2 linked regions of the Homo sapiens genome follow. The protein of the gene in region 2 purifies or fractionates together with the protein of the main gene of each other region. This does not show direct contact. Each region holds a gene or a part of one and is shown on either strand. Other genes may lie near its edges.

The links. Proteins that work in one complex are often made in the same cells at the same time.
Region 1: the proteins of OCIAD1 (region 2) and LRBA purify together in Homo sapiens (co-immunoprecipitation; 2 studies listed by BioGRID and IntAct, with this or other methods). This does not show direct contact.

What each region holds. Positions count from the first base shown.
Region 1 is NC_000004.12:151,012,007-151,019,957, forward strand, and holds the start of LRBA (lipopolysaccharide-responsive and beige-like anchor protein), read right to left. Parts: upstream 3,279-7,951; 5' UTR 3,196-3,278; intron 2,856-3,195; 5' UTR 2,637-2,855; coding exon 2,421-2,636; intron 1-2,420. UniProt on the Homo sapiens protein: Involved in coupling signal transduction and vesicle trafficking to enable polarized secretion and/or membrane deposition of immune effector molecules. Involved in phagophore growth during mitophagy by regulating ATG9A trafficking to mitochondria.
Region 2 is NC_000004.12:48,840,521-48,848,421, reverse strand, and holds part of OCIAD1 (OCIA domain-containing protein 1), read right to left. Parts: intron 5,787-7,901; coding exon 5,733-5,786; intron 24-5,732; coding exon 1-23. UniProt on the Homo sapiens protein: Maintains stem cell potency. Increases STAT3 phosphorylation and controls ERK phosphorylation. May act as a scaffold, increasing STAT3 recruitment onto endosomes. Involved in integrin-mediated cancer cell adhesion and colony formation in ovarian cancer.

The sequences.
Region 1 (7,951 bases), about 100 Mb from region 2:
ATAATCCATGAAAGAGCATGAAAAGTATTTTAAGGGACAATGGAAGGGGAGAAACTGCTACCTAATATTCTCAGCAACTTTTCCTGCCCTACCTGACAAGCGAATGATATTGAAGAGGAGGGTAACTAACTGAACAGACTCTTCTCTCTCCTTCTATCCAGGCACCTACTATCCTGCAAATACGCAGCTTTGAAGGACTTAACCAATGACCTTAAAATCTATACCAGGTCTACAGTTCTAGGAAGCGTATAAGCAAATGCTGCTATAGAATTTGGATTTTCTTTAATGATAAAAATGCAAATGACTCACGTTTGGTCATCCACTCCAACACAGCACATTCTAAAGAACAGGAGTTCAAATCCTCCTTCTGCCAAAAGATGTTGTGTCTTCACACACAAATAAGTAATTATGGATTATATTACTACCACAAATTTCTGTTTCTCACTGAAGGCATATGACATTTTAAAAAAGAACAAAAAATCAGAAAGGAAATGTTTCAAGTCTATTTTGAGGTAAAGCAATCAATTTACCATTTATCTTCCTCAGACTTACATATGAAAGCCCCACACACATGCGCACACACAAGATCCCCAAAATGTTGACAACTGTTGAAGCTGCACAACGGATACCAGAGTTCATTATACTATTCTATTTTTGCATATATTTGAACATTTCCATAATATGCAGTTTTTTAAAATATGCATGTGTGTGTCTATAGGTGTTTATACATAAACTCCCAATAAACTGACATAGAAATATCCAATTGTTCAAAGCTTTCATTCTTCAAAAGTAAGTGAATTTCTTTTTTTTTTTTTTTTTTTTGAAACAGTCTCTCACTCTGCCACCCAGGCTGGAGTGCATTGGCACGATCTCGGCTCACAGCAACCTCCACCTCCTGGGTACAAGCAAGCGCATCCAGCTAATTTTTTTGTATTTTTAGTAGAGATGGGGTTTCACCATGTTGACTAGGCCAGTCTCAAACTCCTAACCTCAAGTGATGTGCCCGCCTCGGCTTCCTGAGGTGCTGGGATTACAGGCGTGAGTCACCACGCCCGGCCAGAATTCCATCTAGCTACTTTCTTATTCTAGAAGTTGTACTGCAGGTGACCAGACCATTAGAGAAGGTCTAGTGAAAGAAATAATTAACTGCCCCAGAATAAAACAAGCCTAACCTTGAAAAGAGGCAAAGGGAAAGGTGCTAAACAGTTATTACAATTAACTGCATGTTTATATTTGGTCCTGTTATCCTCTAACACAGGTGGGTAGGTAGAAAAGGGGGAAGTATTTTAGGGCCAGATTTCCTTTTGATTCTTTAAGTTGATGGGCAAGAGAGGCTGGAATAAAGAAATCTAAAAAGTCTCCATTATAAATGATAACCAAGCCAGGCACAATGGCGCATGCCAGTAGTTCCAGCTACTTAGGAGACAAGAGGGGAGAATCGCCTGAACCCAGGAATTCAAAACTAGCCTAGGCAACAGAGTGAGACCTCATCTCTAAATAAATAAGTTAATGAATTAATTAAAGGTAGAATTGTATAATATATGAATTATACCTCAATTTAAAAACAATTTAAGCCCTATACAGTGATGCATGCCTATAGCCACAACTACTCATAAGACTGAAGCAGGAGGATAGCTTGAACTTAGGAGTTTGAGAACAGCCTGGGCAACATAGAGAGGCCTCATCCCCCTCCCACCCCCACCCGAAAAAAAGCATTCATAGCTCATCTTAGTATAATCAGCAACTTCCAATGACTAACTATGCTTTCCTGCTAGACATGAATTTATAAAACACATAAAAATTATACTGTATCTGCTTCAATTCCTTTTTTCATATTGCCATTCAATTTTCACAAGATTACTTTAAATGCAATCCTAAATTCATCACCAATTTAACTTTTGTTAGTTATGTCTAAAAATAAAACTAGTCAAAATTAAAAATACTAACTTTGCAGCAAATTAATCTTGCATCAGCACTACAAACAAATTTTTAAACTTATTGTAGCAAAACATAACTTCGACAGAATCAAAGACATTAATTCTCAAGTCCAAAAAAAGGTCACAAGAAATTATTTAAAGTGGTAAAGGGAAACGCAGACTTAGGCATACAAGCCAAGAAAAAAAAAATTAGAGATAACTCCTCCGCTAGAACCTCCCCCCAATACTTCCATAGCAACAATTATTTCCTTAGCACAAAAGTGATGTGTTCACTTTCACAAAACCTGGATCATCTAAGTTTGCACAATTCCCTTCAATCTAAAAAACAGATGAAATTGTTTCATTTAGGTGAGTAGAATTTTGTGTCCCTATACACGAAAAAAGTCACCATCAGTGTGAGTAAACCACATGGCTCCAGCTTTAAGATCTTGTTCCCCAACCCACTGAAAAGAGTATATGCTTATAAAATATTCATGGACTTACCAGGTTAAAGACAGTTTCTACAATATCCCTATTGGATACTTCTCCAACTTCAACCAAACCGGTCAACACGGCAAATTTCATTCTGATGCCCCTGATGGGGAGCCCTGGTTTCAGAGACAATGCACCCCCTTCAGTAGGGGTTTCTTCTCTCCCTCCACCTCCCCCGTCATCACCTGTTGGTGGCGGGGAAGGGACACGATTGTCTTCGCTAGCCATTGCTAGCTCACGATAAAGGACAACTCAGAGTCACCCTGGGACGGCAGTCGCTGCACTGGTAATGAGCACAACACACGCAATGCAAAACGAAAGGGTCCCTCTTCCAACTTGTGGAGATACCCCAAAGCAGTTGATGTGGAAAGTCCTTGGCGTCGCCCTCCTCCTCTTGGAGAATATTTGTCCAATCTCTCTCCCCGAGGCTGACAACAACGCCAAACCCTATTGGAAGATTAAATATATGTTAAATAGGCTAGGTTTTGTTTTAGGGTTTTGAGGGGACAAGAGGGAAATAGTTATTGTCGGTCAAGTAAGTTACTAAAGGCACCCCACTACTAGCCACCCGCTTCTCCCGGGCTCAAAAAGCTGGGTTCTGGGTGAAGGCAGGTCCAAGAGGCCCCCGAACAGGCTCACTCCTCCCCCACTCTCGTGCAGGTTCTAGGCGCAGGGTAACCTCTCCTCACAGGTGCACTAGAAAGAGAAACTGTCGCGGGGAAAGGAGGGATCGGAGGAAAGAAGGGGGGCCCACAAGCTATCACAGAGGTAGAAAGTTCTTCCTCACCCAGATACTCCGGACTCGTCCTCACCCCCCGCCCAGGAGCAGCGAGACCGAGGTGGCGGCGGAGATCCAGGGCAGGAAAAGGCGGGGGAAGGGGGCGGTGATTATTCTAAATGCTCGGCCCAGTGGGAGGAGTGAAGCACCTCTCTCAGGCACCTGAGATTCGACGGGAAGGGGTGGGGAGGTGTGTGTGGTGGCAGGAAGGGAGGGGAGCGGCCAGAGAAACCCAGCGGCCACCGCAGGGAGAGAAGGGAGGACAGAGAGGTCAGTGCACCTGGTCGCAGCCTCCAAGTTTCCCTAGTCCGCTCCCCGGGAGTCCGCGGCTGCACAGAACTCCATGGCTTCCTGGCCCGCCCCGCCCCTGCGCTCAGCCTTTGCAAAAGCAGCCGCTGCTGGCGCTACGGGCGCCGCGGCTGAGGCTGCTGCGAGTGGTGAGGATGCTACTGCCACAGCTCGCCCCGCCACGGGTCGCGCGGCTGTCGTGTGCCCACTGAAGCTGCTCCCGGCCGCCATGACAGCGCCGAGTGCTGCCGGGCGCGGCGTGCGCGTGCGCGAGCGCGAGTGCGCGGGGCGGGAGGGCGCGAAGGCGGAGGCAGCCGCGCGGCGGGGGCGCGGTGACGACGCGCGGACAGCCAAGGGGGCCCCGAGCCAGCCGGAGTGCTGGGCTGGGGCTTCCGGCTGCACTAGGCGCGCTGCTCTGGTAGCACCAGGTGTGTACCCGGCCCGGCGAGGAGAGACCCTTCCGTCCGAGGGCCTACACTTTCCCCTCTCCCACTCTCGGACCTCGGGAGGTGCTTCTGCCAAGTCCTGAGGCGGGGATTTTGGCGCTCCTGCTGTTGTTAAGTTACCGTAGGGTCTCTTGGCGCGGAGGGAACACGCGCTGCGTTGCCTAGGTGTCTCATTGGACTTGGAGAAGAACACCTGAGGCACCTCTACGAGCCAGAGAGGTGACGGCGCTGGAGCCAGTGAGGCTGCTGTCCCTGCCCAATGGGAGCGAGGAGTCCCCACCCCTGGCTGCTTTCAGCTGTTGCCCGCCCGCCGCTCTCGGCGGAGACTTGGAGATTTCCACTGGGATACCTCGGCAGCTGCCGCCATTCGGGAGGGGAGGGGAGGGGACCGAGTCGACGAGGAATGGGAAAGATTCCTTGCTTTGCAGCTGCCGCGCCACGAAACCTCTCCCACATTCATTCTAGGCAGAGGATTCCTGAGACAGCTGCTATAAACAGCGTGGAGACAGGGTTCCTTGTGCCTGTAGACCTCCGAAGGGTTTTTTCCTCTCGTGATTTTCCAATGTGAAGATTAGGCTCGCGTCATTCTCAGAGTAGATCAAAAGATAAATTATATTAGGTAGTACAGATAGGTCCTCATACTCAGTGTCCCTTCTTTCCACCCGCTATTAACAGTAAACCATTCTTCCTAGTGAGTGAAAAATAAATTTAGAGGAAGGTGGTTTTTCACCCACGTGTATCCTTTGAGGTCAAAGGGCCTTTTTAAAAATACGCCTAGCTCCTAAAATGAAAGTGAAGCAAAAAGTGGGATTAAACAAAGGAAGAATTCTAGAGAACTTAGGAAAAAATTATAGTGGTTTGAGAAATAGTTTCCTGAAGAAAAAGTTATTTGAGATGGCCTTGAGAAGTGGACAGAAGCCGGGCGCGGTGGCTCACGCCTGTAATCCCAGCACTTTGGGAGGCCCAAGCAGATGGATTGCCTGAGGTCAGGAGTTCAAGACCAGCCTGACCAATATGGTGAAACCCCCGTCTCTACTAAAAATACAAAAATTAGCCAGGCATGGTGGTAGGCGCCTGTAATCCCAGCTACTCGGGAGGCTGAGGCAGGAGAATTGCCACTGCACTCCAGCCTGGGTGACAGAGGAAGAGCGAGATTCTGTCTCAAAAAAAAAAAAAAAAAAAGACAATTTTAACTCTCACATGGAAATTTGGGAAGAAAAAGGTAACAGACGCAAAAAGCAAGGGAGGGCTGGGTGTAGTAGCTCACACCTGTCATCCCAACACTTTAGGAGGCTAGTGCAGGAGGATCACTTGAGACTAGCCTAGGCAACAGCAAGACCCGTGCTCTTTTTTTTTTTTTTTTTTTAAACGGAGTTTCGCTCTTGTTGCCCAGGCTGGAGTGCAATGGCGCAATCTCGGCTCACCTTAACCTCTGCCTCCCGGGCTCCAGCGATTCTCCTGCCTCAGCCTCCCAAGTAGCTGGGATTACAGGCATGCGCTAATTTTTTTTATTTTTATTACAAGCCCGCCTAATTTTTGTATTTTTGGTAGAGGTGGGGTTTCACCATGTTGGCCAGGCTGGTCTCAAACTCCTGACCTTAGGTGATCTGCCCGTCTCAGCCTCCCGAAGTGCTGAGATTACAGGTGTGAGCCACCGTACCCGACCAAGGTCTCTATTTTTTTAAAAAAGAAGCAGAAGAACAAGCAAGGGGATATTTTCTTTAGAAAAGTGTTACACGTTTTAAAAATACTAAAATGAATTCAACTGCACCAAATCTCATGTGGTTGCAAATGTTTGTTAAAGATTTGTTTTCTGTAAGTAGACTTAGATATTCCAGAGATGAAGCAGACATCTTTCTGATGATCCGAATTGCCAACACATTTCCAAAGTAAAAGGCGACATCAGTGGCTTCCCATTTCTGAAATCTCTGAAAAACTAAACACCTCAAGTTTGTTTCACATCATTAATGAATAACTCTGGAATAAGGGGGAGTAGGGTGTGCCTGCAGAAGAGACACAACTTTCACTTGACCTTTCACACATCCGTATTTCTAAAGTGAGGCATTAATCCTAAAAGGCCTCTCATCGGAGTTTGTCTCCTCAGATGGGGCAAATGGTGTGTTAATATATCTGTCATATAAGTGCTAATTAAGTATTTGTTAAATGAATAAATGTCTTCCATTAAGAAGCAGATGATAATAATGAAAATGCCCCCAACACAGAGTGATCACAGTCTAAATGATCTAGGGCTAAGGTTTGTAGCTCATAAATTTGCAAGCTCACTGTTAATGCTGTTCTACTGATGAAACAATGAACACAGACAATTAACCAAATATTTCTAAATGCCGGGTACAGTGGCTCCTGCCTGTAATCACAGCACTTTGGGAGGCTGAGGCAGGCAGATCACCTGAGGTCAGGAGTTTGAGACCAGCCTGGCCAACATGGTGAAACCCCATCTCTACTAAAAATACAAAAAAATAGCCAGGCGTTGTGGTGGGTGCCTGTAATCCCAGCTACTTGGAGGCTGAGGCAGAAGAATCGCTTGAACCCGGGAGGCAGAGGTTGCAATGAGCCACGACCACACCTTTGCCCTCCAGCCCGGGCAGTAAGAGCAGAAACTCCATCTAAAAAAAAATACATATATATATATATATATATATATATATATGCACAAATTGTCAACTATTTATAAAAATTTTTCAACCTCTTTGCCCATGGTTAAAACAAAATAGTTGGCAAAAATTGGAGGTTCACTGCAGAAAGAAGCATAAGGAAGGTAGAAGGCGAAACTCTTCACTTCTAGGCAAGCCAGTTAAAATGCAATCACTAGGCCCGGGTGCGGTGGCTCATGCCTGTAATCCCAGCACTTTGGGAAGCAGAGGCGGGTGGATGACCTGAGATTGGGCGTTCAAGACCAGCTTGACCAATCTCTACTAAAAATTACGTGGCGCATGCCTGTAATCCCAGCTACTCAGGAGGCTGAGGCAGGAAAATCGCTTGAACCCAGGAGGCAGAGGTTGCAGTGAGCCGAGATTGGCCACTCCAGCCTGGGCAACAAGAGCACAACTCCATCTCAAAAAATAAATAAAATGCAATCATTGTGGATTATTATTTAGGTGTACGACATAGAATCTTGGAATGATTCCAGATGAACTATCTGCCTCAAATCTTAAGCTCCTTTATAGCACAATACTTTACACATTACAGGTATTCATATTATTTGGATTGAGTCGAAACTCTAAAGTTACTTGCTTTAATTTTTCTCACCTGAAAGCCCTTGTCTGCGCCTACACAGCTATTAGCAGTGACAGGGAGGAAAATCCTGGTATGAATGGGTATCTTGGCTGGGCACAGTGGCTCATGCCTGTAATCCAAGCACTTTGGGAGGCCAAGAGGGGAGGATTGCTTGAGACCAGCCTGGCCATCATGGCAAGACCTCCTGTCTACAAAAAGTTTTAAAAATTAGCCAGGCATGGTGGAACACATCTGTAGTCCCAGCTACTGGGGAGGCTGATGTGGGAGGATCACTTGAGCCGAGGAGTTCGAGGCTGCAGTGAGCTGTCATGTTGCCACTGCACTGCAGCGTGGGTGACCAATCAAGACCCCATATCAAAAACAAGTAGGGGGAAGCCAGACGTGGTGGTGGCTCATGCCTGTAATCCCAGCATTCTGGGAGACCAAGGTGGGCAGATTGCTTGAGCTCAGGAGTTTGAGACCAGCTTGGGCAACATGGTGAAAACCCGTCTCTACAAAAAATACAAAAATTAGCCAGGTATGGTCCCTGTGCATGCCTGTGGTCCCAGCTATTTGGAGGTCTGAGGCGGAAGGATCGCTTGAGTCCGGGAGGTGGAGGCTGCGGTGCATCAAGATCACATGACTGCACTCCAGCCTGGCTAACAGAGCAAGACCTTGTCTCAAAGAAAAGGAGTGGGTGGCAAGGTATCTTAATATGGAAAGCAGTTTTACCATATGTTTATATCTTCAGCACTATTAATGGAAGTTTTCTAGTCAAAAGCCTTCATATGAACTAT
Region 2 (7,901 bases):
TTTGGGATGACTTGAAAGTATTCCTAAAGAAAAGAGTTAAGTATTTCTGAGTAACACTGTTACAGAAAGAAAAATCAGTAAAGGCTATCTTTAAATATAATCTTACAACATTAGCTCCTTCCATGATCCTACAGAACCCTAGACTGTTTAATAGGGAAAACCAAATGAATTCAGTATCAAGAGAAATATGACGAAAATCCAAAAGACTCTACAAAGTATTAGAACAGGTAAATTTAGAAAGATCACTTGATGTAAGGTCAATAGACCAAATATATATGTGTGTGTGTATGAAAAACTGTTTATACCAACAACAAACAAAAAAACAAACATTTTTTAGAAGACAGAATTAATTATAGCACCAAAAAAAAAAACGCTCAAAACCCAGGAACAAATCTAATGAAAGATATGAAAGATCTCTACACTGACAAGTTATAAAACTTACTGAGAATTGAAAGACCCAATATTCTAAAGATGGCAATTCTCCATAACTTCACCTATAAATACAATGCAATCCCAATTAAAATCAAAGTTTTACAAAAATTGAAAAGCTTATTCTAAGAGTCATGTGGAACACAAAGGGCCAAGGCAACACTGAAGAATCGTATTATAGAACTGACTACCACCAGATAGCAAAATCTACATGATAAAGCTGTAGTAATTAAGACAGTCTGGTATTAAGTACAAGAATAGGCAAACTGACCAAAACTAAGAGTCCAGAAACAGATCCACACCTGCACACTTGATTTATGACAAAGACAACACTGCAGCATAGTCCTTTCAAATATAGTGCTGGGTCAATTAATATCCATTAACAGGGGAAAATGTACCTTGATCCTACATCGAACAATAATCCAGATGGCTTAAAAATTTAAATATGAAAGATTTTTTTAAAAAATTTTACAGAAGAAAGCATGAGACCATCTTTGTGTCCTTAGAGTAGACGAAGATCTTAAAGAGTCAACAAAAAGCACCTATTAGAAAGAAGAAACCTGATAAATTGGACTCTATTAACACTGAAAACTACAGTTAAACAGAGTGGGGAAAAAATAATCACCATATCTATATCTGACAAAAGACTCAATTCCAAAGTATACAGAGAAGTCTCACAAAACCAATAGGAAAAAAGACAATACAATGGAAAAATGGTTAACAGACTTAAACAGATACTTCACAGAAAAAGATATGCTGAAATGAAGTATAAACAAATGGAAAGGTCTTCAACTTCATTGGTTACAGGGAAATACAAATTCAAGCCACAATGCAATCAATATTAGTGTTTATTTACCACAATGGCTAAAACATAAAAGACATAAAAATAGCTAGTGTTGGTGAGAATGTAGGAGTATACATTGGTCTAAATAGTTTGGTAATATCTACTAAAGCTAAATAAATATATACAAAATCTATGACCCAGCAAAATGTCTATCAAAAAGGCACCATATTCTTGGCAAAACTAATTGTAACAGTGAAAATTGAAAACTACCAATTATCAATGCACAGTTCAGATAGATAAACTGGTGTATTCACACAGAGGAAAACTATAGGGCAACTACATGCAACAATGTGGTTAAGTGCAATGATGTGCTGGTAAACCAGCACTCCCTATAAAAAGCTCTAATTTTAATGTTTGTCAGTTTCCATGGTGTAAAGCTACCAATTCTTTTTTTTTTTTTTTTGAGACGAGTCTCGCTCTGTCCCCAGGCTGGAGTGCAGTGGCGCCATCTCAGCTCACTGCAACCTTCGCCTCCTGGGTTCAAGCAATTCTCCTGCCTCAGCCTCCCAAGTAGCTGGGACTACAGGTGCACACCACCATGCCCAGTTAATTTTTTGTATTTTTAGTAGAGACAGGGTTTCACCATATTGGCCAGGATGGTCTCAATCACCTGACCTCATGATCCGCCTGCCTCAGCCTCCCAAAGTGCTGGGATTACCGGCATGAGCCACCGTACCCGGCCAACTACCAACACTTTAAAAACCAGCTTGCCAAAGTTCCCGAAAATTTAACAACCAATTCTCAGGAGCCAGTACAAACCAGTTCCAGCATGCTACTGGATGAATCTCACCATGTTGAAAGAACTTACATAAAAGAATATTTCAGTGTATGATTTCATGTAATTAAAGTACAAAAACAGACAACTAATCTGTGCCTTTAGCCTCAGTTCCTTCATTTATAAGAACTGGGATGACAATAGAAAAAGGAAGATGGTAAGAACATCTCTATTTTTACATTAAAAAGTTGTTCCTTCATACTGTCACCAACTAGTTATAGACCACTTACAACATAAAGGTACTACATACTGGATATTAACAGGAAACAGGACACACTCTTTACTCTCATGGAATTTACAGTCTAGAGAGAGAGTTAAGACAAAGATAATAGTGTCATGGTTGCTATTCATCCCCTCAAATATTTGAGTACTATGTGCACTATGTATGTCCTCTGTCAGGTGCTAGAAATAGCTTATTTTCCTAAGGAGAAGTAGCAAGAATGGAAACAAACAGATTTGTTGAAGGTTAACGCAATACTCTTTGTGACATATGGTTGCATTAATTATGCTGGCAGTACAGATGGAGGTAGATAGTTAATAAAGACATTTAAGAGCTAAAAGACATTAATTGGACAAGGCAGATAAGGGATAGATGTGAAGGATAATGTCCCAGTTTCCTGGATAGTACTAACACCACTCAGTCATGAAGGGAAAGGAGGAATTGGTTTTGTGGAAAATGGTTGAGTTCTGTTTGAGGAGCCTATAGAAGGGCCATACATATTATATATTATATCCAAAATATAGTAACACCAACATTTCCCAAACAACTAGACAAAAAAACCCATACAAGAATGTAAGCACCAAGAGTTAATGAATTTTTGTTGTTTAGTGCTATATAACAATGTATAGTACATATCAGACACTCAAAAAACATGAAACAGAGGAATCGCCTGAGGTAGGAGAAAAATCTTAGGAATATGCCATCATGGAAGCCAAGAGAATAGACTATTTCAAGAAAAACTGGTTAAAGTTATGTAACGTTGGTCAAGAACAAAAACTGTCCATTATATTTAAGCAACAAACAGGTTGTTTTTGAAAAGTTTGTTTTTGAACTTTTGAAAAGTTCCAATAAATGGTAGAACATATGGATAGTCTCACACTGACTGCAATGGGTTAAACGAAGTAAAAAGTGAAGGGCTCATTCATGAAGTCTGCCTCTGGCTTCAAATATGAGGCAGTTGGGAGTAGCTGGAAAAACAAATGAGGGAGGATTTTTTTTTCTTTTTAATGTTCTCAAGTTAGAGGAGACCTGAGCATGTTTAAATGGTTTTGGCAGATCAGGAAGAAACAGAAGGAACATCTAAGACCACGTGGAGTATGACACACTGTGGATGAAAGGGGATACAGGCAGCCCTCCATATGTACATGTTCTGCAACCAACTGCGGATAGAAAATATTTAGGAAAAAAAAAACTGCATCTATACTAAACATGTACAGACTTGTTTCTTGTCATTATTCCCTAAACAATACAGTATAACAACTATTTACATAGTGTTTACATAGTCTTAGGTATTATAAGTAATCTAGAGATGATTTACAGTATACAGGCAGATATGCACGTAAACTTTACTAGGCCGTTTTATATCAGAGACTTAAGCTTTTGTGGATTTTGGTATCCTCTGGAGGGTCCTGGAACCAATCCACACAGACACAAAAGGACCACTGTACAAAATGTCAGGGATTTTGATTAAATGCAAAATGTCTTGGTGGATTCCAAATTCTTTTCTTAAAGTCTCTCTCAATTTTTACCTTTTTTTTGAGACAGAGTCTCGCTCTGTTGCCCAGGCTAGAGTGCAGTGGCGCCATCTCAGCTCACTGCAGCCTCCGCCACCTGGGTTCAAGCGATTCTCCTGCCTCAGTCTCCTGAGTAGCTGGGACTACAGGCACGCACGACCACGCCCGGCTAATTTTTTTGTATTTTTAGTAGAGATGGGGTTTTATCATGTTGGCCAGGACGGTCTCGATTTCCTAACCTTGTGATGCACCCGACTCGGCCTCCCAATATCACTTCTACCGTACCCTCAAGTAGCCCAAAGTCTTCAACTGCACCTAAACCCAAAATCTCTAAAAAACTTCCTCCTCTTCATAACCTAATCCAAATTATAATTTCTCCTGGCTCTACTTCAGCTATTTAATGGATTTTTCACTCCTCCCTGCATGATTTTGTCTCTTCAGTTCAGTCCTGATTGCCTCTCCCAATAGTTATGCCTATTTGTCTTCATCATCAGGTCCCTCCTTCCTGGTATGTTCTTTCTTCTCATTTAATCTAAATCCTGCCCATCCTTCAAAACCCACTTCTTTCAAGAAACTTTCCTTGATTACAACAGCCCTACAAAGATCTTTCTTCTTTGAACACCTACAACTCTTAGAGTCTCTACTATACAATTTAGTAGCTTATTAAGTATGTAATTAAATTTTCTATTTGCTTCAACATATGTTCACATCCATTTGTTTCCTCCAGTGAACTACTAGCAGCTATTAAATTCTTTTGTGTAACCTTCTGCATACCTAGCTCCAATCATTATTAAATGACACACTGGATTAAAATAGATAAAAGAAGCAGAACAATAATAAACACTGTAATTTCATCCCTGTGCCAGTTTTTCCTACAAAGAATGTAATTCAAGTGGGGTTTTTTTTGTTTTGTTGTTGTTGTTGTTGTTGTTTCACAATACAGAACCAATCTCAGTCTATAAAACAGCTTAGTCTTAAGGACATATAAGTGCATACATCTTGACTCGCTTCTATGTTTAAGATTTTTGTCATGGTACTGTATTGTAATGAAGTTCTTCAGAAGTTCCTTAAATAAATTTTTACCCCAAAAATCCTCTCATTTGCCTCCAAAACTACTTTTATCAACTAATTGTGTCAAAACTAAGTACCATACATCATATCCTAATGTGAAAAGGCTAAATCTTCCAATCATTAAGTCACATTTTTGAAGGAGCCAGTTAATTAAAACAATAGGCCTCCAGGCCATCCTAAGGTCACCATCCTTTTCTGGGACACCTTCCCATTACCAGATAGATAGTTCATGAAGTAAAGGAATTAAGCAACTCTACTGCTTACTCCACTACATTTTAAATGCAGGACTCAAGACATTTAATACTCAATCTAAACTCAATTCCACTACTGTACTATTTGAGCCAATAGACTTTAGGACAAGAAAGTCTCCTCGGTGGCTCGTTAAAAATAGATCACCTGCCAGACCCCTGAGATTCTGATTTTTTAAATAATGCTAACTCACCGCCACTCATCCGCCCCAGGTGATCAGACAAAGCTGGTTTAGAGAGCTACTGATCTTTAAATCATTATATAAGAATCACTTCGAATTTGTTAAAACACAGACTCCTGGTCCCCATGAATGTGCATTCTAACAAGCTCCTAGGCAATAATGTTGCTATTGGCCCACCTAGACCAGGTTTGCCCTGCTAATACTGGTGTTTAGTTACCTTCTTGCTCTTGCAGATTGTTAATGATGCTATTAGTGCAGGAGAAATTCTCAAGTCATGATATTTGAGCCAGTGGGTCCACAGAGATAAAACGTTTAAATTCATCAATGAATTTCTACATAGTGTTTAATATGATACATTGTTATCTTTACTTTTTCTAAAGACCTGGAAAATACCACAAAACAAACATGGTATCCAAAATGCTAAATAAATTCAAATTTTAAATATTTACCTTTACTAATTAATCCTTGAGTAATCAACATACTTGTTGCAGCCAAAGGCACAGCTATAGGAAGAAAAAGACCTTGTTAACATCAACAAAAGTAAAAGATTTTGTCTAAAGTTCATTAGATAAATGAATAGCAGTAAAACCATCTAGGAATTATATTGCATAACTAAGACCTTTAAAAAAGACTGTTCCATTTTTAAAAGCTGTACTGTATACATAGTGGAAAAATTAAAGGAGCATTTTAAATTTAAGAAAACATCACAAAATATTAAACAATATAATTCATGAACCATCTAGGCTTAGGTTCCAAATAGCCAGCTGTTCATCAACAGCATCAACTAAGACAACACAGTAAAAGTGACTCAAAATTACTTCTGAAGTAAGAGAAGGGGAAAAAGTTAATGAAGGAGAGGTAAGAAACAAGTTACAAGTAAGAACCACTACTGAGTAATGACTAAATTCTGTGCATCATGCTAAGCGCCTTATGTGCATTATCTCATTTATTATACTTTTTATCATATTTCTATAAGGTAGATAATGTTATTACCACCCTTTTAAAGATAAGGAAACTGAAGCTTAGAGATGTTAAGTAATTTGCTCAAGGCCAAACAACTAGTTGAATGGTTGGTTACAGATTCTAATAAAATCTGTCTGATACCAGATCTCAAGCTTTTAAGCTCTAGTATACCATCTAAACCAAAATACAAAACATATTTGACCGTAATCATACGGTGGCTGGGGCAAAAATTAAAAAGCACATATTTTAAACACTTATGTTCTTTCTTCTAAACTAGTGAACTCCTTAAACTATATGAAAATATTACATCTATATATATATATGCCTAAAACCGAGAGTGAAAAATCCAAAACTCATAATCTCAAAGGGGGCTATAACTTAAAAACAGCTATGAATCACTGTTCTTTACACCAGCACTGTCTAACAGAATTTTTTATGATAATGGAAGTTGGTCTTTGAGTGACCAACCCTGTGATCAATTTGGTCTTGGTACTTGACTGGTAAACAGTTCCCCCCATTGATATGCGTAATTGGCTCACTGTGCCCAAACTGTTTGTACAAATACAGTTCATGCCAAACATCTGCTTTCATTCTAGGAGTCTGGAATTTTGGTACCTGTTAGGCAGAGGGTGAATAAGTGACCAGCCCCCAATAAAAACTGTGGGCACTGAGTCTCTAATGAGTTCCCCGGGTAGATACAACTTCACACATTGTTATGACTAGCTGTTGGAGAAATTTACACTCCCTGGGAAGAGAACTCTTGGGACCTGGTTTCCGCCGGACTTCACCCCATGCTCCCTTTCCTTTTATGATTTTGCTTTATATCCTTTCACTGCAAGTTATTTTAAAGTTAAATTGCTACATGTGACTACTGGCTGCCACACTGGACAGTGCTGTTCCAGACCTGAGGTTGGCAAACACGTTCTATGAAGAGCCAGATGGTAAATATTTTGGGTTTTGTGGGCCAATCTCTGTCCCAGTTACTCAATTGCCGTTTTAAAGCAAAAGCACCGAAAGACAATCCAAAAACACATGAACGTAGCTGTGTTCCAACAAAACTTTATTTTTAGATGCAAACATATGAATTTCATGTAATTTCACACGTAATGAAATATTCTTTTCCTTTGATTTCTTAACCATTTTATCTTATTTTATGTTTTTAGACAAAGTCTCACTCTATCACCAAGGCTGGAATGCAGTGGTACAATCTCATCTCACTGCAGCCTCAACCTGCCGGCTCAGATGATCCTCCTGCTTCAGCCTCCCAAGTGGTTGGGACTACAGGCATGCACCGCCATGCCTGGCTAATTTTTTGTCTTTTTTCTTTTTTTTTTTTTTTTTTGTAGAGATGAGGTTTCGCCAAGTTGCCCAGGCTGGTCTCGATCTCCTTGGTTCAAGTAATCAGCCCACCTCAGCCTCCCAAAGTGCTGGGATTACAGGCGTGAGCCACTGCACCCAGCCTCTTAACCATTTAAAAATGTAAAAACAATTCTTAGCTCATGCATACAAAAACAGATTTGGTCCATGGGCTAGTTTGTTCAACTCTGGTCTAAACCATATATGGACAATTTAAGAACCAAAGTAATTAAGACATTTGAATTATTACAGATTTCATGATTAAAATCCATCACTTTGGAATAGGGCATTAACTTTGC